4 separate regions of the Homo sapiens genome follow, and regions 2, 3 and 4 are each linked to region 1. Evidence: fine-mapped expression QTL. A gene starts in region 1. Each other region holds a variant in brackets. All regions are shown on one strand. Distances are between the middles of the regions. Region 1 holds the start of GPAT3 (glycerol-3-phosphate acyltransferase 3). Region 2 has its middle 12 kb from the start of ABRAXAS1. Region 3 has its middle 110 kb from the start of GPAT3. Region 4 has its middle 78 kb from the start of GPAT3.

Region 1 (7,794 bases):
CAATGCAACTTGTCTGTTGAATAAAGTACTTCAAAAGTCTGCTTCACCCCCAGACTTCTGAGTTCTACCATACCTTTTAAATTGAACGAATAGTCTTTGTTTGGCTTCAGCTATGACGTATTATTTGCCATAGGCTTCTATTCATGACAATATTGACAACTGCTCAAAGTTTTTTAGCCTAAATTCTGTTCACATTGGCCACAATTGCTGTAAAAGCAGAGGCTTGAAGAAGACTTGAATAACACAATGAGTTAACAGGTAAGGGCAGCTGTTTGGAATCAATTATTTTTGCTTTGATATCCATACACTTAGCTGGACCTCAATGGGTTTTTTTTTTGCTTTTTATACAGGGTCTTCTTCTGTTGCCCAGGCTGGAGTGCAGTAGGGTACATGTCGTCAGGACCTCCTGAGGCTGTCATGAAAAAAAAAAAAAATATATATATATATATATATGTATACACACACACACATACACGTAGCCTATAATCCTAGCACTTTGGGAGGCCGAGGCAGGTGATCTCCCCGCTATGGATATGACCTTATTTGGAAAAAGGGTCTTTGCAGATTAAGGCAAGAAAAAGATGGAGAGTTTTTGCCCTTGCACCAGGCTGCCTGCTGATCTCTGCATAGAGCTTTGCATATATACAGTATGTATATATATACAGTATACTATATGTATATACACACTTATATATACACTATATATGTGTATATATACATACATACTATACATACAGTATATATACAATGTATGTATATATACTGTATGTATATACTGTATATATAGTATACGTGTGTACATATAATATATATAATATGTGTGTATTATATATGTATATATGTATATGTGTATATATACACACACTCCTGTATATATATATACATACACACCTGTACATACATATATATGTAGAGATCAGCTGTTTGTGTGTATATATATATACACACATATATATACATATGTGTATATATATGCATATATATACACATATATACACATATGTATGTATATATATGTGTACATATACACACAGGTGTGTAAGTGTATATATATACAGGTGTGTATATATATTCATAGTTACGGGTGTTAGGACTTGGACATATCTTTTGGGGAGGCATGTATATATATACATGCCTGGATTAATAGGTAAAAAAACAGGATTATGGATAAATTCATTACTAAGCATTGACTATCAACTACCATTTAATACATACTCTCCAATCCCAATAACAACCTCTGCAGGTAGGTGTTATTATCCTCATTTTACAGAGATGGTAATTATAACGGGTTGAATTGCACCTTCCCCAAAAGGTATGTCCAAGTCCTAACACCCCTAACTATGGATATGACCTTATTTGGAAAAAGGGTCTTTGCAGATTAAGTTTAATTCAGGGAAGAATCTCAAGATTAGATCATCCTGGATGAGGGTGGGCCCTAAATCCAGAATAATGTGTCTTTGTAAAAGAAAAGATGGGAAGAAGAGACAGGAAGGTCATGTGAAGACTGAGGCAGAGATGTGTGTGCTGCCACAAACCAAAGAATGCTGGGATCCACCAGAAGCTGGAAGATTCTCCTCTACAGTTTTTGGAGGGAGTGTGACCTTACAGACAGACACCTTGATTTCACACTTCTGGTCTCCAGAACTGAGAGAATCAATTTCTGTTGTGTTAAGTCCTTAAATTTGTGGTGATTTGTGAAGGCATCCCTAGGAAACAAATACAGTAAGTAAAGGGGGTCTTGACTTCAGGGACGGAGAAAGTAGGTTCCTACCTAGGTTTAAGTCTCAAGGAATGGAGGAGGGAGGAGAGGTGAGGAGAGTGAAAGAGAGACAAGGAGAGCGGCAAGTCGGGACCAACTTTCCCCGACTTGAGACAGGGTCAGGATCACCCTACATTTCTTCTCTTCCCTCACCCTCCTCCATCACTGCAAAGATGAGCCTTTGTTACCCTGGGGAGCCTGTGTTGGCTCTCCTGCCTTTTAGGCAAGAAAAAGATGAAGAGTTTTTGCCCTTGCACCAGGCTGCCTGCTGATCTCTGCATAGAGCTTTGTCATTTACCATGCAGTTTCATGCTCACAATCACTTTCAACCCTGAGAAGAACCCATCTTCCTGATGAGAAAGGTGAAGCACAGAAGCACTTGCTCAAACTTATATGTGTTCGTGCTGCTCTCAATCGAAGACTCCAAATTCCATTTTATTACCATTGCACCATACAGCTGTGGACGAATAATTCTTCCGTAACAGTTAAAACAAAACCAAACCAAAACCATTTTGTGGAGTTTGTTCATGAGCACCAAAAATCACTGGAGAGTGTGTGCACTCAGCACACGCAAAGTTGTGTGTATTATCTCCCTTGTGGGGTAAACTTTGGTACAAGGATTTAGCCTTCCTTAGTTATCTTGGTTTGAGGAAATAAAAGGAAAATAAGAGTTTTGCCTGAACATATGGTGTTAAATATGCCAATATAATATTTGAAGTTTTGCACTCAATATATATAGTGTTTGAAAGCAAGGACTTTGGGCAGCTTTCGGTAGTTGCGTTTTCCGTGTTTTTCTAAACTAGCCAACCTTACAGAGGTTTAATTTTGAGAAACCAAGCTCCTAACACTTCTTCATTCATAACCCTTTTTTTTTTTTTTTAGACTGAGTCTCACTCTGTCTCCCAGGCTGCAGTGCAGTGGCACGATCTCGGCTCACTGCAACCTCCTCCTCCCGGGTTCAAGTGATTCTCCTGCCTCAGCCTCCTGAGTAGCTGGGACTACAGGCGTGCGACACCACGCGGGGCTAATTTTTTTGTATTTTTAGTAGAGACGGGGGTTTCGCCATGTTGGCCAGGCTGGTGTTGAACTCCTAACCTCAGATGATCTGCCCGCCTCGCCTCCCAGAGTGCTGGGATTACAGGCGTGAGCCACCGCGCCCGGTCCATAACCTGGTTTTAATCATCAAGTTATAATTTTTTCCGTTCTTAGTGTGGGAGGGGGCTTGTGACAGCTACCTGGCAGTAAGTACTTAAGGCAGACATCTACATTCTTTACAGAGGGGCTTGTCACTTCGTTGGCTCCCCACTTCCTCCACACCCTGGGCAGGGACCATTTTCTCTGCAATATTTGCTATCAGCGCTGTTTCAATTCAGTTTGCTGGCCCTCTCAGTTTTTTTCCAGCTTGAAACAACACCTGAAAAGTACCTGTAAGAGATTTTGGTCGAATTCAGCGGCAATCTGGAAAATCCCTTCTCAAAATCCCTTCTGCTCATTCTTAAAAATAGTTCTGGTCTCTAAGAGAACAGCAATGTAGTAAATAACATACAGGGTTTTGCCCTTCGTTGCTCTGATAAGGGCTGGCGCGGTAGAAGCGCGGAGCCTGAACACCCAGGAGACACCTGTCAGCTTGGTGAATGAAGGCTTGCGCCGGCCTGGCATTTCTGCTACGCCTAAGCGCGGATAGTATTGGCTGAATGGTAGGGGAAGGTGTGGTTGGAATCTTCCCCCAGAAAGGGAGTGACAGATACTTAGCCGCAGGGTTTCTGTGCCAGGGAGATGGCGGCTCAGTGGGCTAGGCAACGCGTGGAGAGAGCTTCCTACTCTCGGGATAAGCAAGATTGAGCCCCACAGCTGTAGGCCATGTGGGGAAGGAGGTGTGGAAGCCAGAAGCGGCGTACACGGCTGCGTGGTGCGCTCTGCGTTTTCCTGTCCTTGGAAGCCCTTTCCAAGAGTTCGTTTTACACCCACACAAACAAGACCTCAAGCGTCCCAGATACGTCAGCAGTTCATTCTGCGGGTGAAGAAAATATTGACATTTTTCAGATGAAAACTCTCCTCCTGAAAGGACCTTTGCTGAGTGCTGGGGGAGGCGGGGCGCGGGGAAGAACGGAGACCGCCCAGGAGGCTGCGGCACTCCTGGGCTAAGTACTGCCAGGGAGCTCCCCCGTTGGGTGACGGAGGAGGTGGGGCGAGGGCAGCGCGCAGAAATAGGGCGCTGGGCGCCCGAGCGCAGCCAGCTTCCAGCACAGCCCGCGGCCCGGTGCCAGCTCCGCCGGCGACCGGTGTGCCAAAGTGCGGTGCTCCCGCAGGGAACCTGGCTCGGGGAGGGCCTCCGTGAGTCATCTGCTGAGTTGTCGCAATCGCCACCCAGAGGAAATCAGGCACCGGGCGGGGCGGGTTCCTGGCTGCGCTCGCGCGCTCTGCCCGCGCCGCGGTGTGCCTCCGCTTACCCGCAGCTCCGACCACTGGCTCGCGCTACCCAGGTCTCCGCACGCCGCGGTGGCTTCAGCCCAGACCTGGGCAGCCAGCGGAGAAAGAGTTAACTGGCAGGGGCGAGGAGGAGCCCAGGGAGGAAGGAAGGATATTGCCGTAATTCTGAAAGTTTTTTTCCTTCCTCTCTTCCCTTCGCAGAGGTGAGTGCCGGGCTCGGCGCTCTGCTCCTGGAGCTCCCGCGGGACTGCCTGGGGACAGGGACTGCTGTGGCGCTCGGCCCTCCACTGCGGACCTCTCCTGAGTGGGTGCGCCGAGTCATGGAGGGCGCAGAGCTGGCCGGGAAGATCCTTTCCACCTGGCTGACGCTGGTTCTCGGCTTCATCCTTTTACCTTCGGTCTTCGGAGTGTCTCTGGGCATCTCCGAGATCTACATGAAGATCCTAGTGAAAACTTTAGAGGTGAGTGCCGGGAGGGATGCAGCCAGCCCCACACCGCTGCGGGCTGAGAACCCGGGGGTCCAGTTCTCAAGGTCAGTGGTCGCGAGTCAGGGGTGTGTGTGCGCGCGTGTGCATGCGTGCGTGCATTTCTGTTCCTTGCCCGCAGCAGTGCGAAAGTCAGCATCTCGGCTTCTTTCGCGGAGCTGGAGGGATCTAGGCTGGAACCACTGGACCACTCTGTTGTTTCTCTGGTCGAAGGCGAAAAAATCATTCCACTCCCTGAGCATCGTTATTATTTTACTGATTAGAATAACAACAATGCGACCAACTTTTTGTATCAGAGGATTTGCTTATATCCATTATGCAGTGCAGTTTCCGCTTCACCCGCTTGTTTTTACAGCCCCAGGTTTCAGAGGTCCTTTTGTGTACTAAGGCATCCAGTTCAGAAAGGCATCATGTTCTTCTTTATGCCCAAGATAAGAGACCAATTGCTGGATGGCAGAAAGAAATCTTATTTTATTTTAGTGGAGTCATGGAAATTTTATCTAACCAACAGCACTTGAAATGCCATTGAAAAGGTATATATTCTTTGACCTCAGGTCTCCCTACCCTCCTGTTTCCAAATCCTGCAAAGAAAAATGTTAGATGGAAGTAGGCCTGGTAGAGAACAACTGCAGCTTACTCTTAGGGTTTTATTAAGTGTCAAAAGGCTGGGTAGGGTAGGGAGGGCAAGTGCCAACCCCCTTTTACAGAGAGGGAAACTGAGAGTCAGAGATCAGTGGTTTCTTTGAATTAAGTGTTAGAAGCAGGAGTCTTTTTTTAAAAAAAAATTTAATTATATGTATAATATGTGTGTGTGTGTGTGTGTGTGTGTGTGTGTGTGTATATTTAACATAAGAGACAGGGTCTTGCTATCTTGGCTAGGCTGGTCTTGAACTCCTGGCCTCAAGCAATCTTCCTGCCGTCACCTCCCAAAGTGCTGGGATTAAAGGTGTGAGCCCCACGCCTGGCCAGAAACAGGCATCTCAACTGAGAAGAGGCCCTGCAGCCTAGTGGTTAGGATTAGGGACCCTGGATACAGGTTTGCTTAGATTTGGTACCAAAATTGTAGCTCTGTTTCTCAAAATGTGACCTTAGGGAGGTCATCTACTCTTGTGCCTCATTTTCTGTATCTATAAAATAGGAGTAACAATAACTCCTATTTCCATAGGGTTGTTCAAATGAGTTAAAAGGTATCAAGCACCTTAGAAGGCTGCCTGCACCTACTGTATGAATGCTTGTTGCTATTAAAAGAATAATATGATTACTGAGATTCTGGCATTCCACAGTGCCTTCTAATAAGTTTGGTTCCCATTTTTGTGACCTGTTTTCTCTCTGCCCTTAGGACGTGGCTTTATCTGCTCTTCTTTCTCAGCTAATTGGGTGGCTCCCAGGTATACATCTCTAACCCACTGGACATTGTCTTGTACTTGCTAGCCTCCTGTATTGCCCTAGACTCTTGTTTGTGGCTATTTCTTTGCCTAGACTTTGAAGTTGTATGTGATTCTTCATCCTCAGTGCTCATGTTTTTAAAGTTCTACTGTTTCTACTTGGGAGCTATTTCTCAGTTTTGAACTCTTCTTATTGACTTTACATTCTGAGCTTGGTCACATTATGCTGTGAATTTCTTGACTGCTTCCTAATGTGAGATCTTCAGAATCCTCTCCCATAGCAGATGATCCTCTTCAGCTGGTGTTCCCTCTTTCTCTGAACTCTGAAATGATTGAACTGCTCTCTCATACAGCAATGTCTTTTGGAATTTATACCCTGTGTAAGAATGGTGTAAAGGTAAATCACACCCACTGGCTTCCAGGGGCTCACTTCTGTCTGTTTTTCTTTAGTAACTCAAGGTCAGCTAAGGACGGAGGCCAGCTAGTTGCTGTCAGCCTGGCAAATTATTATACCTGATAGGATGATCTCCAGTCCAGGATCTGACTTTCAGTTTGACAGGCCAGAGATTTTAATTTTTGTCCTTCTGGATAACTCCAGAGCTGAACTCCTTGTCAATCAAACTGACAAGAATGCCAGTTTTCTAATTCTGGTGGGAGAAACCAGATAACTTGGAAACCAGGTAGGTGACACATCAGGAACCCACCCTGTCTGCTGAGACTAAGTTATTAGGTCAAAGAGATGCTTGATATATGTGGAATTTGAATACAGATTCATTGTGTGAGCCAGCTCTGATTTGTTGGTTGCGGCTGCCTGGAACTCCTATGTTTGGGAGCATCTGAGCTCATCAGGAAAGAGAGCTGTGATCCCATAGTGATTTCTGCTTTAGGTGCAGGAGAACAGTAACCCAGGATCCTCTATCCTTCAACTAGAACAGTGTTAGATGTTTCAAAGACATTTCTGTTAGACTGGGGTTAATACGGTGGATTGCTTTTCTCAACTATAGGAATAATTCCTTAAGGGATTATGCTGATGTTTAGCATTAGAACATCTTCAGTGCTGGCCAAATACCCTGCCTTTCTGTAGATTGCATTCAAGGCCTAGCCCTTGTATCACTCCTTGGTAAATTCTTAATTGATTTAGTTGTATTTTTCTTTACATTTCATTCCCAAGAATATTCTTTGGGCTCTGATCATAATTGGATATTTCTCAAGTTTCTTTGCTTATAATTTATGTACCATTTAAAAAGATCATTTAGTTTTGTCTATTATATGTTTACTTTGACAAGTTTTACTGTCAATGGGTGACTTTCTCATGACAATAAACTCAAATTCTAGAAGTTGAAATGTGTGTAGGGTACCCTCTAAATTGCTGATTTTGGTAATTGTTACTTGTTAACTCACTGAACTTTATGCTCTTCTCTGACTCCTTCTTAACCCACTGGTTCAAGTAATTATCATTTATTGAGCACCTACTTCTATTTTCTTCTGCATTGCTGGGTATCTCTAGATGTATGCGTAAGTCACTGATATGGCAAGATACTTGAGGATAAGCCTTGAATACTTAGCTTGGAATAAGTTTAGTGATTCTCCAAGCCAGTGATTTTCAAGGGATATATGATAATTTGTTGGATACGTATGTTAATATTACAGCTTTATAGTCGAGAAAATTGTTTTAGGAATACAAATTATGAAGAGTAAAACTTGGCCAGGTGCGGTGGCTCACGCCTGTAATCCC
Region 2 (7,794 bases), 39 kb before region 1:
TGTGTGAACACCCTGAGGCAATTAGAAGATTCTAAAACCTGGAGTGTGAGAGGGAGGGAGGCAGGAGGTAAAAGCTGGCTAGTGAGAAGGGCCAGACCATGCTGGCTGTTGTAGCATAGGATTTTAGAATTTGTCTTTTTGGTTTTGAAACAAGGTTTCACTTTGTTGTCCAGGCTGTGGTGCAGTGGCACGATCATGGTTCGCTGCAGCCTCAACCTCCCTGGGTTCAGGTGTTTCTGCCCCTTCAGCCTCCTGAGCAGTTGGGACTACAAGCATGCAACACCACACCAGGCTAATTTTTGTAGCAATAGGATTTCGCCATGTTTCCCAGGCTGATCTCCAACTCCTGGGCTCCAGCAATCGTCCCACCTTAGCCTCCCAAAATGTTGGGATTACAGGTGTAAGCCAACACGCCGGGCCCAGAATTTATCTTAAAAGAGTGGAAACAGCCAGGTGCGGTGGCTCACACCTGTAATCTCAGCCCTTTGGGAGGCCAAGGCGAGTGGATCACCTGAGGTCAGGAGTTTGATACTAGCCTGGCCAATGTGGCAAAACCCTGTCTCTACTAAAAATACAAAAAATTAGCCGAGAGTGGTGGCAGGCATCTGTAATCCCAGCTACTTGGGAGGCTGAGGCAGGAGAGTCACTTGAACCCAGGAAGCAGAGGTTGCAGTGAGCCGAGATCGTGCCACTGCCCTCTAGCCTGGGAGACAGAGCAAGACTGTGTCTCAAAAAAAAAAAGAAAAAAAAAAGAAAAGAAAGAAAGAAAGAAAGAAAGAAAGAAAGAAAGAAAGAAAGAAAGAAAAAAAAGGCCATGCGTGGTGGCTCACGCCTGTAATCCCAGCACTTTGGGAGGCCGAGGTGGGCGGATCACAAGGTCAGGAGACTGAGACCATCCTGGCTAACATGGTGAAACCCTGTCTCTACTAAAAATACAAAAAATTACCTGGGTGTGGTGGCATGCACCTGTAGTCCCAGCTACTCAGGAGGCTGAGGCAAGAGAATTGCTTGAACCCAGGAGGTGGAGGTCGCAGCGAGCTGAGATCACGCCACTGCACTCCAGCCTGGGCGACAGAGCAAGACTCAATCTCAAAAAAAAAAAAAAAAAACAACATTGTGGAAATGGCCGGTGGCCCAGGCCTGTAATCCTAGCACTTTGGGAGGCCGAGGCCAGGAGTTGGAGACCAGCCTCACTAACATGGTGAAACCCCATCTCTATTAAAAATACAAAAATTAGCCAGGCATGGTGTCAGGCGCCTGTAATCCCAGCTACTCCAGAGGCTGAGGCACGAGAATCGCTTAAGCCTGGGAGGCAGAGGTTGCAGTGAGCTGAGATTGCACCACTGCATTCCAGCCTGGGCAACGGAGTGAGACTCTGTCTAAAAAAAAAAAAAATATATATATATATATATATATATATATATATATATATATATAAACATGTATATATATATATAAACATGTTTATATATATTTTTTATATATGTTGATATATATGTTTATATATAAATATTTTTAAAAATTATATATAATTTTTATAAATATATTTATATATATATTTTTAAAAATTATATATAATTTTTATAAGTATATTTATATATAAATATGTATAAATTATATATAATTTTTATAAGTATATTTATATATAAATATATATAAATTATATATAAATATTTAAAAAATATATAAACATGTTTATACATTATATGTTTATATATATTTTATATATAGTTTTTATATTTTTATATATAAATATATATTTATGTTTTATATATAAACATATATAAAATATATAAACACATATATAATATGTATAAACATATATATAAAAAACATACTTAAAAAAATTAAATTTAATTATAAAAAGATACTGAATGGGCTGGATGTGGTGGCTCACGCCTGTAATCCCAGCACTTTGGGAGGCCGAGGTGGGAAGATCAGTTGAGGTCAGGAGTTCGAGACCAGCCTGGTCAACACAGTGAAACCCCATCTCTATTAAAAATACGAAAATTAGCCTGGTATGGTGGCACACTCCTGTAATCCCAGCTACTAGGGAGGCTGAGGCGGGAGAATTGCTTGAACCCAGGAGGCAGAGGTTGCTGTGAGCCAAGATCGCTCCACTGCACTCCAGACTGGGTGACAGAGCCAGACTCTGTCTAAAAAAAAGAATACTGAATGGATAGAAGCTAAAAATGCTACAAAACTCATCTAATTAGTTGCTGTCAATATTACATGTTTTTTTCGTTTTTTAAAAAATAATAATTGTATACATTCATGGGCTACGTAATGTTTTTTTTTTTTGGGGGGGACGGAGTCTCGCTCTTTTGCCCAGGCCGGAGTGCAGTGATGCAATCTTGGCTCACTGCAAGCTCCACCTCCCGGGTTCACGCCATTCTCCTGCCTCAGACTTCCGAGTAGCTGGGACTACAGGGGCCCGCCATCGCGCCCGGCTAATTTTTCGTATTTTTAGTAGAGACGGTATTTCACTGTGTTGGCCAGGATGGTCTCAATCTCCTGACCTCGTGATCTGCCCGCCTAACCTCTAAAAGTGCTGGGATTACAGGAGTGAGCCACGGCGCTCGGCCCTACATAATGTTTTAATACAAACAATGCATAGTGATCAGATCAGGGTAATTAGCATATTGGTAATTTCAAAGATTTATCATTTCTTTGTGTTGACAACATTTAATATTGTAAGAATTAAAGAAAGAGGAGAGAAACACAAAGGATGGCTTTTCAGTCAACAGGGGCAGGTTTATTTTAAATAAACCTGAGAAGGGCGGTTGGCTGAGTTAGGTCAGAGCCACACTCTCTAACAGACTAAGAGTTTCTAAAGATTCAGGATAGGAGAGTTTATAAGAGGCTTGGACTGCTTCTGTGTCTCTTTGTTGTGCTTATCTGGGAGGGACAGTTGCGTTTCTATTCCCATACACCTTTTTGCAGCTGCAGGCATATCCCCCAAGTCTGCTTTTAGCTTCTCTATCTTAGTATTCCTGAAGGGAAAGAAAAGTGCTTATTAAGGCCCACTGTCTTACTGGGGCCCATTGTATGAGGGTGAAGTTTGGCAGTTACCCAAGAGACTTTCTCCTCACCTCCCTCTGTTTCCAAGCGGTCTTATCTGTGTTTTACTGTCTGCTCTTTCTGGCTGCTTGTAGTTAGAAGAGAAGTGATTTCCTTGAAATGCATGAGGCTAGAAAGGGAGCTGGAACTTAAAGTGGTGGTGTTTGTCCGAGATGACGGTGCTCCTGCTCTAGCAAATATCCTGCCAGGCGTAGTGGCTCACGCCTGTAATCCCAGTACTTTGGGAGGCGGAGGCTGGGGGATCACCTGAGGTCAGGAGTTTGAGACCAGCCTGGACAACATGGTGAAACCCCATCTCTACTGAAAATACAAAAATTAGCTGGGCATGGTGGTGCACACCTGTAATCCCAGCTACTTGGGAGGCTGAGGCACTAAAATTGCTTGAACCGGGGATGTGGAGGTTGCAGTAAGCCAAGATTGCACCACTGCCCTCCAGCCTAAGTGACAGAGCAAAACTCCATCTTAAAACACACACACACACCCACACAAACACACACACACAGAGCAACATTCAATATCCTCTCTTCTAGCTATTTGAAACTATACAACGCATTATTGTTAATTATAAGCAACCTGCAATGCTGCAGAGCACTAGAACTTATCCTCCTATCTAGCTGTAATTTTGTATTCTTTAGCAAATCTCTACCTATCCTCCCCTTCCCAGTCTCTAATATCCTCTGGTTCCACATTTTACTTCTATTAGATCAACTTTTTTTAGCTTCCACATGTGAGTGAGAATATGCGGTATTTAACTTTCTGTTAAGATCATTTGCCTACTTTATAATCAGACGTTTTCTTG[T/C]TTTGTTTTTTGCTATTGAGATGTTTGAACTCTTTGTATCTTCTGGATATTAATCCCCTGTGGGATGAGTAGTCTGAAAATATTTTCTCTGATCCTGTAGGTTGTCTTTTCACTCTCTTGATTGTTTCCTCTGCCGTGCAGAAGATTTTTAGTTTGATATAATCCCATTTGTTTATTTTTGCTTCTGTTGTCTGTGCTTTTGAGGTCTTATTCGTAGAACCAAGCCTGGTGACATATTGATTTTGAACTTAGAGCTTCCAGAACTGTGAGAAAGTACATTTCTGTTTTTTAAGCCACCCAGTCTAATGTAACAATAATATATTTAGATACCTTTTAACTTCTCTCCCTGCCCCCACCAAATATCTAATGGTCAGAATAAATAATAACAGGGAAGACAAACATGTTTTGTTTTGTTTGAGAATGAGATGCACCTGATCACAGTGGATTTTAAGCTCTTTTTGTATATATACTAGGGAATGGCTGGATGTCTTTTTTCATAATTATTATACTAGGATCACATACTAGTTAGTAACTTCAAATAGGGCAGTCAGATAGGCTTCACGTGCCTCCTTCAAGCACCAAAAGCTATACTCTGGAAACTCCAAGATCAGTGTTAAAGTCCTACACAATTTCTCACACCAGATGCTGGATGAGACATTTGAAAAATAAAAGTTTAGTGAACTTCTAACAATGTCTGGTTTCAAGGAATGCCAGAGTGCCAGGCCTGTAGTGATAAGATTTCTTCACTCCCTGCTTGATTTGCAGGCAATCAGCTTAGAAAGAGCTGTGGTATAGAAAACTTGTTCCTTACCAGCCCCCTGCCTTTTGCCTGGAGCTCAGCAAGCTAGAGGTGGCATTGATACCAGAAAGAGATGGCTGAGCAGCTGCAAACACAACTGAGAGAGGATCTGGGCTATGTAAATTTTATTTCAAAATAAATTGCTACCTTCACAAAGTTGTGGAAAAGTTACTGCATTTAGATGTGACAATTAGGCTAGGTGCAGTGGCTTACACCCTAATCCTACCACTTCAGGAGGCCGGAGCAGGAAGATTGCTTGAGCATAGGAGTTAAGAGGCTACAGTGAGCTATGACTGTACCACTGTACTACAGCCTGGGCAATGGAGCAAAAACTTGTCTCTTGGAGAAAAAGAAGGAAAAGAAAAGAGGAGAGGAGAGAGAGAAAGAAAGAAGAGAGGGAAAGAAAGAAAAAGGAAAGAAAGAAAGAAAAAGGGAAGAAAGAAAAAGAGAGAGAGAGAAAGAAGGAAAAAAAGAAGGAAAATGGACTCTCTATGTCCTGTGGGTTCATGCTGAAAAGTTAAAAAACAATAAAATAAGGACAAATTCTTTGATAGCTGTTTAAAGAGACAGAGAGGAAATACATATAATGATCTTATATATTACTGTGTGTGGTAGTTTGTCTGCAAACATGGCCATCAACAATTTCTCCTACCCTATGCACTCATGCTGCTTCTCCCATCAAGTAGTCTATTTTCCCTTCCTTTTAACTGAGGTGGCCTGGTGACTTCCTTTAATCAATACAATGCATCCTGTGTGACTCTGCCACTTCCACACTTAGGCTTTAAGTGTTCTGGAAGCTTCCACCTTCAACATCTTTGAAGTCAGCCACTGTGCTGTACAAAAGCTCAGGCCAGACCACTGAATGATGAGAGCCATGTGGAGAGACACTCTAGAAGATGAGCTTCTCTGGAATGGTTTGGCCCCAGGTGTGCTTCGGGCTGAACATAGCCTCATGAGTGACTTCAAATACAACAAGTGGAGTGGAAGAACCACCCAGCTAAATTCAGTCAACCTACAGAATCAAGAGAAATAATAGATCATTGTTATTTTAAGCTACTAAATTTTAGAGTGATTTTTTTTTTATGAAGCAAGAGAAAACTAAAATATCTTGTGTAAATGTTTATTTTTATTTTTTTGAGACAGTCTTGCTCTGTCACCCAGGCTGAAATGCACTGGCACAATCTCAGCTCACTGCAACCTATACCTCCCAGGTCCAAGCAATTATCGTGCCTCAGCCTCCCGAGTAGCCAGCATTAAAGGCATGCACCCCCATGCCCAGCTCATTTTTGTATTTTTAGGCGAGTCAGGGTTTTGCCATGTTGGCCAGGCTGGTCTTAACTCCTGATGTCAAGTAATCTGCCAGGCTTGGCCTCTCAAAGTGCTGGGATTACAGGCGTGAGCCACTGCACCCAGACTAAATGTTTATGGTTTTTTTTTGTTGGTTTGTTTGTTTTTGAGATGGAGACGCGCTCTGCCACCCAGGCTGGAGTGCAATGGTGCGATCTCGGCTCACTGCAACCCCTGCCTCCCGGGTTCAAGTGATTCTTCTGTCTCCGCCTCCCCAGTAGCCGGGATTACAGGCACATGCTGCCACGCCCGGCTAATTTTTTGTATTTTTCAGCAGAGACGGGGTTTCACTGTGTTGCCCAGGCTGGTCGAGAACTCCTGAGCTCAGACGATCCACCCGCCTCAGCCTCCCAAAGTGCTAGGGTTACAGGCATGAGCCACCGTACCTGGCCATTTATGTATTTTTCAGTCTCCTGAGTGGCTAGACTATAGACATCCACCACTAGTCAGCTAATTAAAAAAATTTTTTTTTGTAGACATGGGGTCTTGGTGTGTTGCCCAGGCTGGTCTGGAACTCCTGGCTTCAAGTGATCCTCCCACCTTGGCCTCCCAAAGTTCTGGGTTTACAGGCATGGGCCACTGTGCCCAGCTATCTGCTGTTCTTAATCCATGAGACTGTGATGATAATTTGGGACATCTGGTCTCCAAAGAGAAAGAAGCTGGATGGCTCATGGCCTGACAATTGATGTAGCTTTACTGAATGCTTTACAGATACGGAAAGCTAAGAGTAATGCAAAACTACAAGGGCTGCATAGTATTCCATGGAGTATATGTACCACATTTTCTTTATCTAGTCTTCCATTGATGAGAGCATGTCCTTTGCAAGAATACGGATGGAGCTGGAGGCCATTATGTTACTGGTGGAAGGTATCTGAGTTACTGGTGGCAAATCTGTATGGGTCTGCAGCAACTTCAATTCTTACCTCCTCAGAAGAAAGAATTCAACTGAGAGGTATAAGGCAGAAAAGGAGACCGAAACAAATTTCAGAGCAGGAGTGGAAGTTTATTTAAAAGGCTTTAGAACAGGAAAGAAAGAAAAGGAGAGTAGGCTTGTAAGAGACCCAAGCAGGCACTGAGATCAAGTGTGGTGTTTAACCTTGACCCTGGAACTTTATAGGCTGGCTTTCCCATGACTCTTCCCTTAGGATGGGCTGCCTACACACACAGCGCCCTCCTTATCTTTGGGTGCACGTGTTTAGGAAGTTGTACACATGCCCATCTGAAGCTTTCTCCCCTTTTTTGGTGGTGTTTTCTTGGAGGGTCATACTCCACCATTTTGTCTCTTAATGCGCATGCCTGGGAAGTTGCTTCGCCCTGGTGTCTGTATTCAATTAACACCTTAGTGCAAAAGGTGTGGACCATCAGGAAATGGCCTCTCCCTGGCACCGGCTGCCAATGTATCACTTTTAGAGAGGTGATGTGATAATTACTGAACCATCATCCACATTCCTAGTGGGTTGGGGAGTCTTCTCCTGACCCCTGCTCATGCCTAACTACCTGTAACAATTATCCTTAGCAAACTAATCCAGGAACAGAAAACTGAATATGCATGTTTTCACTAACAAGTAGTAGCTAAATGACGAGAACACATGAACACAAAGAAAGGAACAACAGACACTGGTGTCTACAGGAGGGTGGAGGGTGGGAGGAGGGAGAGGATGAGGAAAAATAACTAATGGGTACTAGGCTTAATACCTGGGTGATGAAATAATCTGTACACCAAACCCCCATGACACAGACTTACCTATGTAACAAACCTGCACACGTA
Region 3 (7,794 bases), 110 kb after region 1:
TTTTGGATTCACTTAACATACCTTTTAAGATTTCCAAAAGAGACAAATCCTGTAAGTGTCTTATTTTATTGAGTTAAACACTTGAAAGCTATTTATTCATTTAAATCAGTATTTTGAGTAAGTGTTTATATGAGCCCCTAATATTTGTCAGGTATCATTTTAGGTGCTAGGAGTACATCCCTCATTTCTCTGAACTTAAAGACATGAGCAAATAACTAAGCAGTAAGGGGCTGTAATTGCAGTATTAATTGCATGTATGTTCTATTTGTACCATTTTTACAGAATTGTATGTATTTTACAGGTGGTATTTATGAAAATTGAAACCATAGAAATAAGAGAATCTCACTGATACAGAGAACAGGGATAAATAGAACCTCAAAGAGTTAGAGTTATTATTAGGACCAATTTTAAGTTGGAAGATACTTGGCAACAGTTTGTCAAAAATGATGGAACCGTTTTCTTCCTTTTCCTAGTTTATGTGGACTTTTGTTCTAGCAAATTTTGGTTTGTGCATTTGAGGGCCAATTACTCATGAAGCAGAATATTTGAGTCCATTTGCTTTATTCACTAACTGGTTGTCCTACTGGCATTTCTAATTTAAAACACATTGAATGACCTCCTAAGACAAACATCTAGCTTAATGATTAGAGGGAAGGATTGGACAGTACTTCAGAGCATGAGTTTTGACATAAGTGTCACCAAGGTGGGCCGGGCACAGCGGTTCACACCTGTAATCCCAGCACTTTGGGAGGCTGAGGCGAGCAGATCACCTGAGGTCGGGAGTTTGAGACCAGCCTGACCAACATGGAGAAACCTCGTCTCTACTGAAAATACAAAATTAGCTGGGCATGGTGGTGGTGCGCCTGTAATCTCAGCTACTCGGGAGGCTGAGGCAGGAGAATCGCTTGAACCTGGGAGGCGGAGGTTGTGGTAAGTCGAGATTGCGCCATTGCACTTTAGCCTGGGCAATAAGAGCGAAACTCTGTCTCAAAAAAAAAAAGAAAAGTCACCAATGTTTACTCCTGGCTTCACTCTTATTAGCTCTGTGACCTTCAGCAAGAGTCTTAGCTTTCTTAGTTTTCTCATTTAAGTAGTGGTACTCAACTTGTACTAGTACTCAACTTGTAAGGTCATTGTGAGTGTTAAATAAATATGTCACCGTATTAGCATATAGTAAGGGCTATATACATGTTGAAAGAATAATTAGAAAAAAGTGAAGCCTTTCTTAAGTGCCTTTTAAAAGTAGGCACTACATGGCTAAAATCCATTTATTAATGCTATAGAGACTTGATTATTGTTCATATAATTGATTATTGTTTGTTCATATAATTGATTACTGCTGTCTTAATTGGGGACCAGTGTCACTCAGAAAGAGTGTTGACAGTATGGAAATTACAAAAGATGTTGTTTTTATTTACTATGTTGAATGGTGGTATGAGGGAATCACTGGACTAGCAAAACTCTCTTAAAGTTTTGACATGGGATGGAGTGTGTGGTGGTGGGGACCCTTTTTCCCACTGTTGAGGTTTTATTCTTGTGGAGGGAGCTCCACTAGTCTAGGATTTCTGGATGATGTGTGTTCCTCTTAGGCTCAGACATAGTGTCTTCTCTAGGTCCCTTCCTTGGTGTTTTTATGCCCCTTCCTTGCTCCTTTCTGGAAGATACGTCACTTATCTGACTGGTGAATGTGGAAGGAATAACTGACCAAATGGCTCAGCCTCTTCCCTTTTTCTCTTGGGAGGAGCCTGTCTTCTGGAAGCTTGCATTCCACTCTGATCATCCTTGTCATAAATGCACCAGGCAGGCCCTGTTTTTCAGAGGCTTGCCCAGTCCAGTGGTGCTTGGGATTCAAAAGATAAGCAGTGGCTGGGTGCGGTGGCCCACGCCTGTAATCTAAGCACTTTGGGAAGCTGAGGGAGATGGATTGCTTGAGCTCAGGATTTTGAGACCAGCCTCGGCAACATGGTGAAACTCCATCTCTACGAAAAATACAAAAATTAGCCAGTCTTATAACCAGGTCTCAAAAAAATAAATAAAAATTTAAAAAGACCAGCAGTTTAATTCTTGAGTGCAATGTGATCTACTTGCCTAGAGACGTAGCCTCATTTTTCAATATTAACAATGTGATATCTATTCTCCTAGCTGCCTTATTCTTTGGTCGGATTTCTTAATTGCCTCACAACATTTGTGAGAAAGATGAATGTCATTTACCAAGCCTGTTGAAATCCCAGCAGTCCTGTTAACAATGAATTGTGCACATTCTACTGGGGACTTCCTTCCTTTCCTTTCCTTCCTTTCCTTCCTTTCCTTCCCTTTCCTTCCTTCCTTCCTTCCTTCCTTCCTTCCTTCCTTCCTTCCTTCCTTCTCTCTCTTTTCTTTTCTTTTCTTTTCTTTTCTTCTTCCTTTCTGTCCTGAATCTCGCACTGTCACCTGGGCTGGAGTGCAGTGGCGCAATCTCAGCTCACTGCAACCTCTGCCTCCTGGTTCACGTGATTCTCCTGTCTCATCCTCTTGAGTAGCTGGGATTACAGGCACACACCACCACACCCTGCTAATTTTTGTATTTTTAGTAGAGACAGGGTTCACTGTGTTGGCCAGACTGGTCTCAAACTCCTGACCTCATGATCCGCCCGCCTCGGCCTCCCAAAGTGCTGGGATTACAGGTGTGAGCCACTGTGCCTGGCCAGGGACTTTCTAAGAGCCTGAGTGGAATACACTTCAGAATTATCTATTGAAGGGCAAGGGAGCTAGGGTGTCTATCCACCAACTCCTGTCCCTCACTGGCTGAGGGTTGCTTAATTCCCTGGTACTTTTAGCTTGCCCATTTTGTCGCTAGCAGAAGTCCTCGGCCAGAGAAATGCAGGTGTTTGATGCGGGAAACCAAGAATAAGATGAGAACAATCTACTGAAGCGCCAAGTAACTTTCAGTGTGTCCTGGGGAATGGTTGGGGCACTCACAGTGCCAGCGATAAGGTTCTCTGAATTCCCGTTGGCTATGCTAGTACCCTTGCTCTGTGATTCCACAGATGTTTCCTTAGTCAAATCCAGCATTGGATGGGTTTATTCTGTCACCTCAGCTGTAAGCTCTATGTGGGCAGGGACCAGATGCATGCTATTCACTGTGGTATTCTCAAGCCTAGATGATCAGTAAATATTTGTTAAATGTAGCCGGGTGCAGAGGCTCACGCCTCTAACCCCAGCAATTTGGGAGGCAGAGGCAGGCAAATCACTTGAGGTCAGGAGTTCAAGATCAGCCTGGCCAACATGGTGAAACCCTGTCTCCACAAAAAATACAAAATATATATATATATATTTTAGTCGGGCGTGGTGGCACGTGTCTGTAATCCCATCTACTTGGGAGGCTGAGGCAAGATAATCGCTTGAAGCCAGGAGGCAGAGGTTGCAGTGAGCTGAGATCACACCACTGCACTCCAGCCTGGGCAACAGAGTGAGACTCCATCTCAAAAAAAAAAAAAAATTACTTGTTGAATGAATGCTGTGGTCGGGAATGAATAAATGGTCACAGTGAAAAAATCATATGCAATTATTTTTAAAGCTAGTTTTGGTGTTTTGTAAGAAAGTACATTTGCTATACAAAGAATTGTACTGCTGAAACACAGAGACATGAAGTGCATGGTTTGGACCCACCTGATGTTAAGTTTGAAATAAACTTGCCTTTTACAACTTTATGGTCCTAGAAAAAGGGAGATCACATATTTTCCTTTCTTAGCAAAAATTGTTATCAAGGAATAGTTTCCATGAAGGTAAAACAGAGTAAGAGATTTGTTCTATTTGAAGTATTTTAAATAGGTTCTGTTTGTGAAGTTACTTGTCAAAGTTTCTCAACAGGAGAGAGATGGATTTCAGTGCTGAGGATATGATGATGTAATGTGACAACATTGCCAGTAGG[G/T]GGTGCTGTTTCACGTAGCATTAGAAGCTTTATGGCTTTGGATTCTGTAAATAGAGTTCACAACATTATTCTCGAAATGAATTAGATTAGTTTCCGAACGGTTGATAGGATTTTTAACGTCAGACAGGCAATAAAAGAGAAAGCACCAAAATCAGTCACCCCACTCCATAAGCAAAAAAGTCTGAGGGAGATAAAATCTGTAATTCATACAACTGCAGCCAATATGGGGAAGAAATAATAAAAAAGAAAAAAATGGCTAATTCCAAGTTGATTATATGCTCCAGTGTGGCCTGGATAATTCCAGTTTTGAAATACTATTCTGGATGGGCACATATGCTGAGAAAAATTCAGATATAATGGATAGTGGATAGTTTTTGTTATAGAGTCAAGAGTTGCTTGAATAGATAGCTTTAAGATGAACTGGGAAGTGCTGGGCTTAACTTTGTGAATTACCACATATGAAATACAATTATGCTCACAAATTACTATATTTAAAAACAGCTCACAAAGTAATTCTCATACTCCTGCATTTATAACTTGACAAACTGCTGAGCTGTCTTAATATTTCAATTGAATCTAATAAACACTTACTGGGGGTCTACTGTGTACCAGGCAGTCTGCCAAGCACTGGGAATCCACAAATTTTAGTAAGACAGAGCCCTCCCTTTGAGATTAGCCTTTAGCCAGGGGTTTTTAGGCCTTATAGAGACACTGCTTCTTTTCCATCACAGCCAAAGAACTCAGTCCAAGAGCTGTGGTGCAAGGAGAGGAGTGGTTGTTCCCTGCCTCCATGGTCTTCCTGTAGCAAGGTCTCTGCTCCTCTATACGAAGACCTTGTTTAGTCTGGAGGCAACCAAGAAGTAAGAATTGCCAACACACTGGTTATTCCTCTTGCATCACTCCTTTCAATGCAGAGGGAAGAACTACGGTCATTTTAGATGTTTATCAAAATCCAGTTAATAGATTTAAAAAGGATTATCATTCATCATACCTAAATGTCATAATCACTCCCTTTTCCAGGATGCCCGAAGAAGGCTCAAAGACACAGTGAAATGGCCAAAATAATATTCTAGGACTAGCCTAGAATATTCTAGTCTTCTCGCAGGTTCTAAAATGACAGCTCTAGTGCCAGGACACTAACACGACTGCCCCGAGATTTACCCCTTCCTCTCCCTCCAGAAACATTTGAGACGACAAAAGTTTTCCCATGCAGCAGCAGAAAGCTATCCAATTACTTTCTGGGGAGTGAAATCTTTTAGAAGACACGAACATCAAAGATTTTGAAATGGGGTCAAAGAACAAGGGTGTCTTTGGAAACACACAGTCCTGGTCTGGATTCCAACCTAATTTTTCAGCCGTGTGATTTTGGGCAATTTACTAAGCCTTGGCTTTCTCCCTTAAAAACAGGAATTATCATTCCTAGCTCTTAAGATTGTTGCAAAGTTTGAAATAGGATAATCTATGGAAAAGCACCTATAATAATTCCTGGCATGGTGGGCATCCTAGAAAGTGTTAGGATTCTCCCTTCCTTCTTTGGAGGGGATATTGGTCATCAGTTATGTGATCATCAAACCACATGTAAGCATGTTTAGTATCCAAGCCATGTCATCAACACAGACCCATCGTTTCCTCCTGACCTGCTACTAATGCCCCTTATTTTGATAATAATGTCAATACGCTCTTTCATGGTAAAGTCAATGAACAGCTATGATCATGAGGGCTAATTCTGAAAGCATTCATAGGCAAATCCAAAGCAGGAAGAGGCTATTTATATTTTTCCTTAGTTTTCTTATAAGAGGCGTACCTGAAAGCTGGCGTTCTGAAAGAAACTGATTAAATGACGCATCATTTTGATGCATTCCAGAGCCTTCCCCTTGTTTCCTGTGTGATTCTCAGCCTGCCAGCTCAAGTGAAGTGAGGAACAGCTTCTCTTCATATGCCATGCACAATATGGGAGCACAGCAGCTTTTGCTGCTGATGAAAATATTATGGCCTCAGTTCTCTGTAATCAATTTACTGCTTTATGGACCCAAAGTCCTCCAGAGAATTTAATAAATTCACATAATGTTTCTAAGTGCTGCATTGTGCATTTGGAGCGCTGATTTAGCTGACAAATGTGAAAAATTCGTGTAGCTAGACAACTCCCTAGTGATTAGACATGTGTGGAAGCTAAAGAGACCACGTTGCTCCAGAGAAGGTCAGCATTAACATAAAGCCCAGAATCTTCTCTTCACTAGCCTCATGTCCCTTCAGCTCTGATGGATAACACCATCTGACCAAACATTTATTTGGGGGGTAGGGTTTTACTCATTTCCAGTGGGGCTGTACTTTTGATTCTCTAAAAGTCTGCTCTGGTCTAGGCAGAGTGAAGAATGACAAAGTTAAAGGTGATAGTGTAATGTGTGACTAGGGTGGCACCTACGGATTCAGAGGATGAAATGGTCACTAAGTTATGCACGTTTGACCCTGAGGGATGCCAGAGGTTTCTAAGGGAGCATTTTGTGGGACAGCAGCACAGAGTCACTTGTTTAAAACCAGTTCCATTTAAAGTTATATTAACTCTTTCTGCACATCTCTCTCTTCCATTCAAATTTCTTTCCAAATGTAAACAGATTTACCAAAAATAATTATTAAACCACTTTATTACTCAAAATAATCTTCTATCTTTACTAATGTACATATAAATATTCTGCATCATGATAACCAATCGATTACATTGTCCTAACAATGCCATTTTGTATTCCCCTTTTCCTCTTTAATGTTACTTCATACAAACAACAAAAGCGTTATTTTGTGTCCATCAAAGTGGGCCACAGAGCTGTTGTTTCAAATAGGTTTTTAGTATTTAATTTCTGGTGCTGTATTGTTACAGAGACCATCATTATTCAGAATTACTGCAGGTTTTACTGTTAATTTTAGCTTGAATTTTGGTTTTCAGCTCAAGCAAAGATTTAAGATTTACCTTGAGTTCTCAAATTAGGGGCAATCTGCAATGGATATGGGGCCTAGAGATGTTGTAATAGCCCGTGTAGAAACAAGCTGACGCCTGTTGCACCTCCTATCCTGGTGATGGATGACCCAGCTGATACCTCTACTCTGGCAGGCTCTGAGCACTGGATGAGTGACTGTGGACTCTCTCCTGGGGGACCCAGAAGGTTTGGAGCTGCTCCTATGGCTCTGGATCTGGGTAGAGACACCCAGATGCTTCACTGATGAAAAGGGAATGCCACTTCCTGTATTTGGATACTGTAAGCAATGCTTGACAGGTGATCTTTCTACCACTGTCAAAACAGCCGAAGAGTTGGGGAAACAAAATGTGGTCAAGTATTAACAATCAGAGATAGAATGGGAATGAATATTCCTGTTCATGAAAGACTCTGTAAAACACTTAAAGAGGTATATTCTGAGCCAATATGAGTGACCGTGGCCTGGGGAACTGTATCAAGAGGTCCTGAGAAAGTGTGCCTGAGGTGGTTGAGTTACAGTTTGGTTTTATACATTTTAGGGAGACCAGGAGTTACGGGCAAAGACATAAAATCAATACATGGGAGGTACGTATTGGTTTGGCCCAAAAAGGTGGGAAATCTTGAATAGGGGGTGGTGCTTACAGGCCACAGGTGGATTCAAAGACTTTTCCGATTGACACGTGGTTGAAAAACTTCAGCTTTGTCTAAAGACTTGAAGTCAGCTGAGCCTAGAAGGCCTGGAAAAGGAAGGTCTGGCTGCATTGATGGAGATTCTCTACAGATGCAAACTTCTCCTACAAAAGATGGCTTTGCAGGGGTATTTCAAAATATGTCAATAAATATGTTTCGGGGCTGGGCGCGGTGTCTCACGCCTGTAATCCCAGAACTTTGGGAGGCCGAGATGGGCAGATCACTTGA
Region 4 (7,794 bases), 79 kb after region 1:
TACCATTTATTGAAGATACTGTCCTTTTTCTCATTGAATGTTTTTGGCACCTTTGTAAAAAATCAGTTGGCTTTAAATACATGGATTTATTTCTGCATTGTCTATTCTGTTTCATTGGTCTATTTTTCTTTTTATGCCAATATCAAGCTGTTTTGGTTAATATAGTTTTGTAGCATATTTTGAAGTCAGGTAGTGTGATGCCTACAGCTTTGTTCTTTTTGTTCAAGAATCATATGGTTTTTGTTTTTCATTCTGTTGATGTGATGTATCACATTTATGAATTTGCATATATTGAGCCATCTTTGCATTCCTGGGATAAATCCAACTTGATCATGGTGTATATTTTTTATGTGCTGTTGAATTTGGTTTGCTAGTATTTGTTGAGGATTTTTGGATCTTTGTTAATCAGATATTTTGGCCTATACTTTTCTATTTTTTATTGTGACTTTGTCCGGTTGTATTATCAGAGCAATGCTGGCCTCATACAATGATTTTGGAAGAATTCTCTCCATTTTAACTTTTTGGAATAGTTTGAGAAGCAGTGAAATTAGTTCTTTTTAAATAATTTTGTAGGATTCAGGAGTGAAGTCATTTGTGCCTGGTCTTTTCTTTATTGGGAGATGTTTTATTACTGGTTCAGTCTGGTTACTTGTAATTATTCTGTTCAGGTTTTTCATTTCTTCTTGGTTCAGTCTTGGTAGGTGGTATGTGTCCAGAAATTTATCCATTTCTGTTAGGTTTTTCTAACAGAAATTAGGAAGTAGAGTTGTTCATAATAGTTTCTAATGATCCTTTGTATTTCTGTGCTATCAGTTGTAATGTCTTTTTTTTCACTTCTGATTTTATATATTTGGGTTTTTTCTCTTTTTTCTTAGTCTAGCTATTCCTTTTCAAATTTTGTTTATTGTTTCAAAAAAGCAGCTTTTTGTTTCATCTTTTTTTTTTGCATTTTTTTGGTCTTAATTTCATTTATATTTGCTCTGATATTATTATTTTCTTCTACTAATTTTGGGTTTGGTTTGTTCTTGCTTTTCTAGTTCCTTGGGGTGCATTGTTATTTATTTGAAATCTTTCTACTTTTTTTGATGTATGTGTTTACTGATGTAAACTTCCCTCTTAATACTGCTTTTGCTGTATCCTATAGGTTTTGGGTGTTGTGTTTCCACTTTTATTTGTTTAAATAAATTTTTAAATTTTCTCCTTAATTTCATCATTCACTCATTGGTCATTCAGGTGCATGTTGTTTCATTTCCATGTATTTGTACAGCTTCTAAAGTTCCTCTTGTTGTTGATTTTTAGTTTTATTCCATTGCGGTCAGAACAGATACTAGATGAGATTTTGGTTTTTAAAAATCTGTTGAGACTTTTTTTGTGGCCTAATGCATGGTCAGTCATAGAGAATGTTCCATGTGCTGATGAGAAGAATATGTATTTTACAGCTGTTGAATGAAATGTTCTTAATGTCTGTTAAGTCTTTTGGTTGTAGTATGTTTAAATTGGATGTTTCTTTGTTGATTTTCTGCCTAGATGATCTCTTCAACGCTGAGAGTGGGGTCTTGAAGTCCCCAACTACTATTTTATTGGAGCCTATCTCTCCTTTTAGATCTAATAATATTTGCTTTATATATCTGGGTACTCTAGGGTTGGGTACATATACATTTATAATTGTTATATCCTGTTGCAAAATTTATCCATTTATCAGTAAATAATAACCTTCTTTTTTTTTTTTTAGACGGAGTCTCGCTCTGTTGCCAGGCTGGTGTGCAGCGGTGCGCTTGGCTGATTGCAACCTTTGACTCCCAGATTCAAGCGATTCTCCTGCCTCAGCTTCCTGAGTAGCTGGGATTACAGGCACGCGCCACCATGCCCAGTTAATTTTTGTATTTTTAGTAGAGACGGGGTTTCACCATGTTGACCAGGATGGTCTTGATCTCCTGACCTCATGATCCACCTGCCTCAGCCTCCCAAAGTGCTGGGATTACAGGCATGAGCCACCATGGCTGGCCCTTTGTCCCTTTTTTTAAAATAGTTTTTTTACCTAATGCCTATTTTATCAGATATAACTATAGCTATTCCTGCCCACTTTTGGTTTCTGTGTAGAATATCTTTTTCTATCCCTTCACTTTTGATTTATGTGTATTTTACAGGTGAAGTGAGTTTCTTGTAGACAGTATATGGTTGGGTCATTTAAAAAAATCCATTCAGCCAGTGTATATCTTTTGATTAGGGGATTTAATCTGTTTAAGTTCAAGATTATTATTGACAGGTGAGGACTTTATTCCTGTCATCTTGTCAATCATTTTCTAATTGCTTTGTATAGCCCCTGTTCTTTTCTTTCTCTCTTATCATTTATCTTTGAAGTTTAGTGGTTTTATGTGGTGATAAGATTTGATTTATTTCTCTTTCTCCTTTGTATGTCTGGTGTATCAGTGAGTTTTATGCTTTCATGTTCTTTCATGTGTTTTCATGATGCTAGTTATTGTTCTTTTGCTGCCAGATGTAGAACTCCCTTAAGCATTTACTTTAAGGCAAGCCTAGTGTTGATGAATTCTCTCAGTTTTTGCTTTTCTGGGAAAGGGTTTGTGGACTTCATTTTTCAAGGATAGCTTTCCTGGGTATAGTATTCTTGGCTGGCAGTTTTTTTTTTTTCTTAATGCACTTTAACTATGTTGCCTCATTCTCTTTGCCCTGTAAGGTTTCTGCCAATAACTATGCTATTAGTCTAATGGAAATTCCCTTGTATGTGACTTGATATTTTTCTCTTGTTGTTTTTAGAATTCTCTTTGTCTTTGACTTTTGACAGTTTGACTATATGCACCTTGCAGAGGACCTTTTTGGGTTGAATCTATTTGGGAATCTCTGAGTTCCTTGGATCTGGATGTCTCTATCCCTCCCAAGACCTTGGAAGTTTTCAGCTATTAATTTATGAAATAGGTTTTCTATGTATTTTCCCATCTCTTCTTGCTATAGTTTGGATATTTGTCTTCCCCAAATTTTATGTTGAAATGTGACCCATCCCCACTAATGTTGGAGGTGGCGCCTATTGGAAGTTGTCTGGTTAGTGGGGGTGATCCCTCATGAATGGCTTCGTCCCCTTCCCATGGTAATGAATGATGGCTTGGTCCCCTTCCCATGGTAATGGATGAGTTCTTACTCTATTAGTTCATACAAGAGCTGGTTGTTTAAGGCATGGCACTCCTCCCATTGCTTTTTTGCTCCCTCTCTCACCATGTGACATGCTGGCACCCTTTGCCTTCCACCATTAGTAAAAGCTTCTTGAGGTTGTCACCAAAAGTAGATGCAGGTATCATGCTTCTTGTACAGCAATAAACCCCTTTTCTTT[A/G]TAAAAGACCCAGCCGCAGGTATTTATTTACAGCAACGCGAAATGGACTTACACACTTCTCCTTTTGAAATTCTCATAATGTGAATTTTTATTTTGCTTTATGATGCCCTGTAAATCCTGTAGTCTTTCTTCATTCTGTTTTATTCTTTTGTTTTTGTTGTTGTCTGCCTGGGTCATATCAAAAGACCTGTCTTCAAGTTTAGAAATTCTTCTGCTTGCTCTGGTCTTTTGTTGAAGGTCTCGGTTGTATTTCTTATTTCATTCATTGAGTTCTTAAGCTCCAAGATTTCTGTTTGTTTCTTTTATTCTATCTATCTCTTTGTTAAATTTCCTATTCAGATCACGAAGTGTTTTCCTGATTTTGTTGAATTGTCTATATGTATCCTCTTGCATCTCACCAAGTTTTCTTAAACTCATTATTTTGAATTTCTTTTTTGGCATCTTGTAAATTGTTTTTGGTGGGGGAGCTGGTATTGGAGAATTATTATGTTCTTTTGGAAGTGTCATGTTTCCTTGCATTTTCATTTTCTTGTATCTCTATGTTGATACCTGTGTATCTGCTGAAACAATTGCCTCTTCCAATTTTATGGAGTACCTTTGGTAGGGAGAGTCATTCCTGTAGGTGAGTCATATGGTGTCAATGGGTAAGTTGAGTTGGCCTTGGTTCTGGGTGGACACAGTAGTGTAGTCTGTTAACCTGTTAAGATTCTTTGGCTATAATCCACATTAATGATCTTTGTGAGTACCTCAGTGGCCTAGGCTGTGAGAATCTATGGTGGCAGTGGTGCATCTTTGCGGGGATGGGACCATTGAGCTTTTTCTCTGGCCAGAGGCATAAGTGTGCAGTGGGTTGGTTGGTTTGGTGACTGGCTTGCTGGGGGTGAATTTTCCATGCAGTTTCGCTGGCCATGGGTGCAGGGATACAGATGCTTGGTGGACCTGGGAGTGGGTCCACCAGGAATGTTTCTGCTGGAGGTGGGTTCACCTTGTTGCTTCTCCAGCTGGGACATGGATGTGCAGTAGTTCGGTGGCTTGTCTCAGGGGCAGGTTTGTCAGGCTGTTTCTTTGGTAGTGAGTGCCAAGAAGGGGGACTTTCTGGGGGAAGGTCCATTGGACTATTTAGTTCAGCCAGCCAAGGGTTGGCTTTCCTGCTGTGCAATGCTGAAGTCATGGCTGTTCCTGGCCCCATGCTCCAAGCAGACAGCGTTGTGGTATTGCAGCCACCTGTGTGGACTTGGTAAAATAATGGCAGAGACTCAAGGCTGGAGACATGCAGTGGCTGCTGGACCCCAGAGCAGGGTGGACTCTAGCAGTGGTTCCAGTTTCAAGATGGCACAGTCCTGCAGTAGCTTGGCTCACTGGGGTTGATTGGGGTGGGGAGTGCACACCTTGTGTTCCTACTCTGGAGTAACGCAGCTATGTTAATTCCAAGCAGCTCCGCAAACTGGGCTAAGGGCTTTTGAGGACTGTGGGATTCTTCTATAGTAAGTACTACAGGAATCTGCAGTGGCAGTTCAGGCATGTGGGGGCCTTCTGCTTACCTTTTTCCCATATGGAGAAGTCCCTCCTGGATCTGAGCCAATCTCAATGGGAGAGATGGGGTGGCAGGGGCAGGGTGCCTTGCTCCCCTCTTTTTGCTGACATCCTGGGCTTCTGTGCTCCACAGGGATTTCACCAGTCCCTTTCTGCACTCCAGTGCTGTCCCTCAGACACTACAGTTGAATGTTAGTTGTTATTTGTTGTTTTGGTTGTTTTTTGTTGGGAGGGATATGTGCCAGGCAACTCTAGTTAACCATTTTGTTGATGTCCTTTATTTCCCTTTGTTTTTTTTATGAGACTGAGTCTCCGTCTGTCATCCAGGCTGGAGTGCAGTGGCACAATCTTGGCTCACTGCAATCTCTGCCTCCTGGGTTCAAGCGATTCTCCTGCCTCAGCCTCCTGAGTAGCTGGGATTACAGGCATGCACCACCACTCCCAGCTATTTTTTTTTGTATTTTCAGTAGAGACAGGGTTTCACCATATTGACCAGACTGGTCTCGAACTCCTGACCTCAGGTGATCTGCCTGCTTCAGCCTCCCAAAGTGTTAGGATTACAGGCATGAGCCACTGCGCCCAGCCTTATTTCTCATTTGTAAGAGTTATATCTAATTCTTTTTCAAATGTGATTACTCTCACATAGTTTTGAAGTACCTTATGCTTATTGATTTTATGTTTTTCCCAACAACTCCAAAATCTTATATCTTTTGAGGGTCTGGGTCTATCTTTTCTGCTGCTTCTTGTTCATAGAGTCTTTGTGTGTTTAGAGAATTTTAATAATTATCATCTTTGGAATTTTATCCTCTCTTAGACCTGGAGAGCAGGGATCAGCAAACCAAAGCTTGTAGGCCAAATCCTGCCCTCTGTCTGTTTTTGTAAATACAATTTTATTGCAAGACAGCATTTGTTTATATATTGCCTATAGCTGCTTTTGCATGACAAAAGCAAAGTTGAGTAGTTGCTATAGTGACCTGCATGGCCCACAAAGCCTAAAATGTTTACTATCTGCTTCTTCATCTGATATGGTTGCCCACCCCAGCTCTAGGGCACTATCAATCTGGTACTACTTTAAACTATATTGTTGGCTTGAGGTTATCGGGCTATGGAAATAGTGAGAATTCAGTCTGTAAATCCAAAGGTGAGCCATTGTGGTTTTGAATGATCTGTGTACTATTTTTAGATAAATCCACATTGTATTTATAAGTAATTCATTCTTTTTAATTGCCAAGTAGTTTTAAATCTTTAGGGGAAAGTTATTTTTCCCTTTCACTTATCAGTAAGGTTTGACACAAGCAATTTGCCTTGCTTACATTTGAGATTGGAGGATGGATTATTTCTTTTTTTTTTCTTTTCTTTTTTTTTTTTTTTGAGATGGAGTTTCGCTCTTGTTGCCCAGGCTGGAGTGCAATGGCGTGATCTCGGCTTACCGGAACCTCTGCCTCCCGGGTTCAAGCGATTCTCCTGCCTCAGCCTCCAGAGTAGCTGTGATTACAGGTGTGCGCCACCATGCCTGGCTAATTTTGTATTTTTTTTGGGTAGAGATGGGGTTTCTCCATGTGGTCCGGCTGGTCTCGAACTCTTGACCTCAGGTGATCCGCCCGCCTCGGCCTCCCAAAGTGCTGGGATTGCAGGCATGAGCCACTGCACCTGGCCCTTTCTACTTTACTGTTACACAGAGGTTATAGTCCTTTGATATTTCACCTTCAAAGGAAGACTGTAGTTAGACTTTCCATCTTGGGCAGGACTTCAATTTTGTTTTTTGTCCCTTAGGCCCTTAAGGCTCTAGAAACCAATGCTAGAGTTTGCCTGGTTCAGCCAATGCCTGCAAAGTAAATGACAACTGCTGGGCTCTCTGCTCTGCTTTTTCCTCTGGGAATCGATCTTCCTTTAGTCTCTGACTTGAGTAGTCCTAACTTTCTTGCTAGTTACAGAAGCATTCAAAATCATTTTCTTTTATCATATAGGAAGAGAGTGAGTTCTTGTTGCAAAAAATAAAAGTTCTAGAAGGAGACAACTTTAAATTTAAAAAGAAGTTTCTCTGAGTGTTTTACTCTAGGTTAAAGCCATTATTTAAATATAAGGAGAAAAGCCTCTCCTTTAGAATCATTACTGTTCATTTGCAAATTAAATGCTGAAAGGTTTTGTAAGATAAAGTGATTTATAGGAGATCTGGACTAACACAGGGAAAACTGGAAGATTTTGGTGTTGGTGGAGAATACAAAAACCCGACAGCAGGAAGTCAGCTGAAAGAAGCCACCAGGTCATTGGTGTTCTTGGCATTGTGGGTGGGTGGTGAGTTTTCAGGCTGCACGTGTTACAGCCTAGGCTGAGGATCCCATCAAGGCTTTTGATGGCCCTCCATGGTCATAAATTCCTGCTATGAGCACTCCCTGCTGTTGTGAGACGCATATAGTAATTCTGGCTACTTGCTGGCCTCTTGGCTCTGTGTCCGGAAAAGATGTCTTGGAAAACTCTGAGAATAAAAAATGTATACTCTATCTTGGTGACCTAAAACATTTCAAATCCGTTTGCCCTCTAAAGCTGTGATCAGGGAGTGGATAGCTCAAAGAGCAGAACCAGTTAGTCTCCTCTCAAGGTGAAATATATATATTTCTTATACAAATAGGTGAATTTAAACTTTTTTGAGAATCTTTGACAATTGTATGTCTTGGCTTAGTTAAGATATATCCTTGCTGATTACACAAGTCAATTAGGGATCACAGGTTAGAGTTGGGCAAGTTTTCAAATCATTGTTTCTCTAGCTTTATAAAGGAAAACACCTATATTTGGTGCTTACAATTCGTATGCTGTTCTAGGTCTGAGGACACAACAATGACAAAGGCAAAAACTCTGGGCTATGGAAATCCACTGAAGCAGGTGGAAAATAAAAACAAAATCAAGAAACATGTTTGGAC

Evidence for each region. PIP is the estimated chance that this variant, and not a neighbour inherited with it, causes the effect.
Region 2: its variant is fine-mapped to the expression of GPAT3 in whole blood (TOPMed, PIP above 0.99).
Region 3: its variant is fine-mapped to the expression of GPAT3 in whole blood (TOPMed, PIP above 0.99).
Region 4: its variant is fine-mapped to the expression of GPAT3 in whole blood (INTERVAL, PIP above 0.99).

Annotation. Positions count from the first base shown.
Region 1 is chr4:83,532,114-83,539,907 of GRCh38, forward strand. It overlaps GPAT3 (glycerol-3-phosphate acyltransferase 3), which reads left to right and starts at 3,995. Exons shown (of 12, transcript NM_032717.5): 1 at 3,995-4,650. The coding sequence starts at 4,510.
Region 2 is chr4:83,493,293-83,501,086 of GRCh38, forward strand. No RefSeq gene overlaps it. Among named protein-coding and RNA genes, the nearest start is that of ABRAXAS1, 12 kb to the left of the region's middle. The variant T/C (reference allele first, on the strand shown) is at 3,881.
Region 3 is chr4:83,640,964-83,648,757 of GRCh38, forward strand. No RefSeq gene overlaps it. Among named protein-coding and RNA genes, the nearest start is that of GPAT3, 110 kb to the left of the region's middle. The variant G/T (reference allele first, on the strand shown) is at 3,911.
Region 4 is chr4:83,610,623-83,618,416 of GRCh38, forward strand. No RefSeq gene overlaps it. Among named protein-coding and RNA genes, the nearest start is that of GPAT3, 78 kb to the left of the region's middle. RefSeq lists an enhancer at 7,481-7,794. The variant A/G (reference allele first, on the strand shown) is at 3,344.